Regions from separate parts of the Homo sapiens genome. Here region 2 is linked to region 1. Evidence: fine-mapped expression QTL. A gene starts in region 1. The other region holds a variant in brackets. All regions are shown on one strand. Distances are between the middles of the regions. Region 1 holds the start of WRN (WRN RecQ like helicase). Region 2 overlaps WRN (WRN RecQ like helicase).

Evidence for each region. PIP is the estimated chance that this variant, and not a neighbour inherited with it, causes the effect.
Region 2: its variant is the best candidate, but not a certain one, in a credible set for the expression of WRN in whole blood (INTERVAL, PIP 0.51).

The regions. Positions count from the first base shown.
Region 1 is chr8:31,032,300-31,035,319 of GRCh38, reverse strand. It overlaps WRN (WRN RecQ like helicase), which reads right to left and starts at 1,510. Exons shown (of 35, transcript NM_000553.6): 1 at 1,347-1,510. PURG (purine rich element binding protein G) reads left to right here and starts at 1,964. Exons shown (of 2, transcript NM_001323311.2): 1 at 1,964-2,242; 2 at 2,532-3,020. The coding sequence starts at 2,538. RefSeq lists enhancers at 353-402, 1,236-1,757 and silencers at 473-542, 1,513-1,772, 1,933-1,982.
Region 2 is chr8:31,128,170-31,130,669 of GRCh38, reverse strand. All of the region lies in intron 23 of WRN (WRN RecQ like helicase), which reads right to left. Among named protein-coding and RNA genes, the nearest start is that of WRN, 96 kb to the right of the region's middle. The variant T/C (reference allele first, on the strand shown) is at 1,129.

The sequences.
Region 1 (3,020 bases):
AAAACTGCAGCTCCCTACAGCCCCCCACCCACAACACACACACACACTCTTCATCCCCCTTTCCTTTTTAATCTCTATTTTCACCTTCTGTCATCCTATAATTTTACTTTTTGCCTGTCTCTTTCCACTAAAATGTAAGCTCCAAAAGGAGAGAGATGTTTGTCTGTTTTGTTCATTGTTGGTATCTCTAGTGCCTAGAGCAGTCCTTAATAAACATTTGTTGGATTAATAAAGGGAGACCACTGTGGGGGAAAAAAAATAAAAGAAAATAAAATTTTAGCTGAAGAATGCAAGCCCCTTTAAATTATCAGGCCCAGAGAGGCATTAGAATGAAAAAACAGTCCCGTCTCACTCCCGGTCTGAGCTGGATAATTATCTCTTAAAGCCCACCTGCTATATGGGCTCTAGACTGGAACCAAGAAGCCATAAAATGCCATATGCTGGACACGATAACTCATACCCTATGAGTTACAGTGTACAGCCAATCACTAAGCAATGGTATCTCTGTAAACCAATAACAATTCCTGACCAACTTTGTCTCAGCCCACTCTTCCCCTTCGCCTTTAAAAACCTGCTTGTAACCAAGGCTGAAGGAGCACTCCCCAAGGCAACTGGGAAATGAGTCCTGGGCAGCTGTCCTCATTTTGGCTGAAGTAAACACTTTAAATTATAATTTTGTGCCCCAGCCTCTTCCTTTTAGGTAGACACCACTATTCAATGACATCAAGATCTGAACTGTCCTACTTATCCCAATATCCCACCCCTAAAAAGAAATGTACCGAACCATAAAAAGCCTGAAGTACTCCGACTTACAGACTCCTGTATTAGCATCCTAAGAATTATATTACCCTCTTCAATAGGGAGTAGTATTTTTCATATCAAACCTAGCCTGAGAACAACTGAGATTCAACTAGGAAAAAAAGAAAAGAAAATCCATTAAAGACTGAGTGATTTGAACTCAAAAATATCCATCATCACTTGCTAAATCATAGACAGCAGGTTATTTCCCTCGACTTTGCTGTGCAGACCTGTAGTGGCTCAATTTCTGCCATAATAAAGGCCGTACTAGAAAGAGCAATCCTAACTAAGCGCGCAAGGTAAACATCAAGCTGGGGCCGTCAGGGGCGGGGAAACACTTTCTGAATGGCGGAAGCTCCGAGAGACGCCTTTCCCAGCTGCTCCAGAGGGGAAAGGAAAAGGGAGAAAGTCTGTTTTTCCAGAATCTCCCAAACACAGCCCAGGGGCCTGCTCCGCGGGCCTAAGCGCCTCCACGTGTCTCAGAAGCCTAGCACTATAGATACCCCGGGGCACGGAGCTGGGAAAACGGGAATAGGAAGACACTTTACCCCGAGAAGATCCAGTCCAACAGGTCTTCTTCAGCCGGATGACTGTGGAGCGCCACCACAAGCAGGGCCTGCAACCCAGGCATCCAGGCTAGACACCAAATCAGCAAACTTTATTCCCGCGCTGCCGAGTACAAGCCGGCGCCTCCCCGGCGCACACAGTACACATCAGCTCCGGGAGACCTACCCGACCCGCCCCTCCAGCGCCGTCCCCGCCCCCGTTCCTGCCCCACCCCTTTCCCCGCCCCCGGCCCGGCTCGCCTTTCTCGCGGCGCTGCAACCCTCCCACCACAGCCCATCCAGCCCCGCCCAGCGCGCCGCGGTGCGCATGCGTGGAGGCCCTCGCTGCCGCTGAGCACCTCGGGAAGTGTAGTCTCTTCGCAGGTGCGGCTGGGCAGCTAGAGTCCTGCATCCCGGTGGAATCCGGAGAAGTGAGAACATTCCCGCCGCCCGGTCCTCATTCCCATCTTCCCACCTGTCCAGTCCCCTCGCACTCCCGCTGCACCCCACGCGCCGGGCTTCAGTCAGAGAGTGCACTGAGGAAGAGCGGAGACCCCCTCTTCCCCTCAGCAGGCTGTGCCGGGGGAGGCGGGGTCCACCGCCCGCCCCCCGCCGTCGCTCTCCCCGCCTCCCCTTCCCTCCCCTCCTGGCGGGTGCGGGGCCGGTGTCCGAAGTCAGGCGGCGGCCCCCGCAGCGGCCGCAGGAGGGGCGGCTGCGGTGGGCGCCGCGGGCGATGCCCCTGCCCGGCTGCTCCGGCGGGGGGCAGTGCGAGCGGCGGCGGCGGGGGAGGAGGCGGGGGGCGGCGGCTGCGGCGGCTGCAGCAGAGGGGCCGAGAGCTGGCGGTGGCGGCGGCGGTGGTCGTGAAGGGCATCGGCGGCGGCGGTGATGGCAGAGATGATGTGAGTGCCCGCCGGCTGGAGACCTGGGGCCGCGGAGCGCGGGACGGGCGGCGGCGGCGTGCGGGAGCGGCCCCGGGGGCGGCGGAGGGATGCGGGGAGCGCGGGCAGAGCCGGAGCGGCGGCCGCCAACCGGCCGGCAGTGGCTGGAGCCCCGCGCTGCGGCGCCGGGGGAGCCGGGCCCGGCGTGGGGGTCGCGGGCGGCGGCGGGGCGGTCAGGCCGAGGGGCGTCTGCGATTGTTCTCAACACCCCTCCCCCACCCCATCCCGTGTGTCTGTTTGTTACTTGCAGCTGAAGATGGAAAGAGCCAGGCGAAGGGGAGGCGGCGGCGGCCGCGGCCGCGGAGGCAAGAATGTAGGGGGCTCTGGCCTAAGCAAGAGTAGACTCTATCCCCAGGCCCAGCACTCCCACTACCCCCACTACGCGGCCTCAGCCACCCCTAATCAGGCCGGGGGCGCAGCCGAAATCCAGGAGCTGGCCTCCAAACGAGTGGACATCCAGAAAAAGAGGTTTTACCTAGACGTGAAGCAAAGCTCCCGGGGCCGCTTCCTAAAGATAGCCGAAGTCTGGATAGGGAGAGGCCGGCAGGACAACATCAGAAAGAGTAAACTGACCCTCTCCCTGTCTGTGGCAGCGGAGCTGAAGGACTGTCTAGGGGACTTCATCGAGCACTATGCCCACCTGGGCCTGAAAGGCCACCGGCAAGAGCATGGCCACAGCAAAGAGCAAGGCTCCAGAAGGAGGCAGAAGCACTCGGCACCCTCCCCACCAGTCTCGGTG
Region 2 (2,500 bases), 96 kb before region 1:
AAGTGTCTTGCTTAAATAAACTTCTTCTTTAAAATGAAAAAAAAAAAAAAACCCAAATCCTATGCTATAAATTGTTAAACGCTAACGACTGTAAAATATGACAAAAAGATTATAAACCTTTCATTTAAATAGATTTAGAAGTTAAATTCCTAAGTCACCCTTTGGGTAGATCTGAAACTATCATAAATTCAAATGAGAATTATTTAAGTAGGTTGAGAACAAAAGGACTCATTAAAGAAAATCTACTATAGAGTTCAACTACCTAATTCAATTGCTTTCCTTAGAGTAAGTATCTTTGAAATAGCAATAAGAATGCATTCAATATTCCAGATATAATAATGTTTGGGGGAAAAAAACTATGCTTAGGTTTATTCTCCTAATCTCTTTAGTGAGATGCTTAGCTGATTAATTTTCTTTTCTATTATGAGTATTTCAAGCTAATAAACTCCCACAAAGTACTATTCAATGTTGCCTCTTACCAGTTTTTTTTGTTGTTGTTATTAAAATTTTGTAGAGATGCGGTCTCGTTATGTTGCCCAGACTGGTCTTGAATCCTGGCCTCAACTGATCCTCTCTCCTCAGTCTCCCAAAGAGCTAGAATGACAGGTGTGAGCCACTGGGCCCTCTTACTAGTTTTTTTTTTTGTTTTGTTTTGTTTTTTTTTTGAGACAAGAGTGTCGCTCTGTCGCCAGGCTGGAGTGCAGTGGCCCAATCTCGGCTCACGGCAACCTCCGCCTCCCAGGTTCAAGCGATTCTCCTGCCTCAGCCTCCCAAGTAGCTGGGACTACAGGCGCGTGCCACCACGCCCAGCTGATTTTTGTATTTTTAGTAGAGACGGGGTTTCACCATGTTGGCCAGGATGGTTTCAATCTCTTGACCTCGTGATCCCCCAGCCTCGGCCTCCCAAAGTGCTGGGATTACAGGCGTGAGCCAACGCACCCAGCCTCTTACCAGTTTTAATGTATATCATTGTAACTATCCCTAAGTTCTAAAAATGTTAATGCATATTAATGTAGTTATCTGTAGGTTTAAAATTTTTTTTAATTTCCAGTTTGATTTTTTCTTTGAATATGAATTATTTAAGTGTTATTTTTAATTTCCAAATGCATGAGGATTTTGTTGTTTATC[T/C]GCTTATTTACTTCTAACTCAAGTGCATTATGGTCAGAAAATGTGGTGAGAAAACTTCCAAATTCATTGAAGAATTTTGAGACAAGCTAGTCTAGTACAGGGTCAGAAAACACTTTCTATAAAGGACCAGATAGTAAGTATTTCAGGCTTTATAGGCCATGATAGGCTTTGCAGCCAACTACTTAACTCAGGCAGCCCTACATAACACATAAACAAAAGGCATGGCTGTGTTCTGAGAAAACTTTATTTACAAAAACATTAGTCAAGCGTGATGGCTCATGCCTATAATCCCAGCACTTTAGGAGGCTGAAGTAGGAGGACTGATTGAGGCAAGGAGTTTGAAAACCAGCCTGGGCAACATACTGAGACTGTCTCTACCAAAAAAAAATTTGTTTTAATTAACTGGGTCTGGTAGTGCATGCCTGTAGCTACTTGGGAAGCTGAGGTGAGGCAAGAGAATTGCTTGAGCCCAGGAATTTGAGGTTACAGTGAGCTATGATCATACCACTGCTCTCCAGCCTGTGTGACAGCCTGTAGTGACCCTATGTCAAAAAAATAAAAAAAAATAAAACAGCATGCAGATTTGGCCTACAGGCCATAGTTTGCCAACCCATGCTCTAATACATAGTTTTTTTGTTTTTGTTTTTTAGTTTTTTTGTTTGTTCAGTTGGTTGGTTTTTTTTGAGACAGAGTCTCGCTCTGTTGCCCAGGCTGGAGTGCAGTGGCGCGATCTCGGCTCACTGCAAGCTCCGCCTCCTGGGTTCACACCATTCTCCTGCCTCAGCCTCCCGAGTAGCTGGGACTACAGGCACTCGCCACCACATCCGGCTAATTTTTTGTATTTTTAGTAGAGACGGCGTTTCATCATGTTAGCCAGGATGGTCTCGATCTCCTGACCTCGGGATCCACCCGCCTCGGCCTCCCAAAGTGCTGGGATTACAGGCATGAGCCACTGCACCCGGCCCAATACATAGTTTTTAGAAATATTCCATGTATGTTTGAGGAGTGAAGTCTTTCAGTGCTTCTCAATCAGTGTGCTACAAACAAGTGAGTTCTAAGAGTGCTGAAAGGTTAATCACTCCAGATCTTAGGGTTTTGGACAGAAACTGAACTCTGACAATTAGCCCAGTGTGTTATATACACATATCATTTGCTATGTGGGTCATGAAGTAAAAATACTTGAGATACACTGCTATAGTTGCTTGCTCTAGGGCTCCATATACTATGTATCTGATAAATCAGTATACTATGTATACTGATAAATAGTAATAAGCAAACTTATTACTATGTTGACCAAATTTTCTACAGTGTACTAATTTTTGGATTGTTTACCCTACCAATAACTTAAAATTATATCAAATTCTCCCACTTT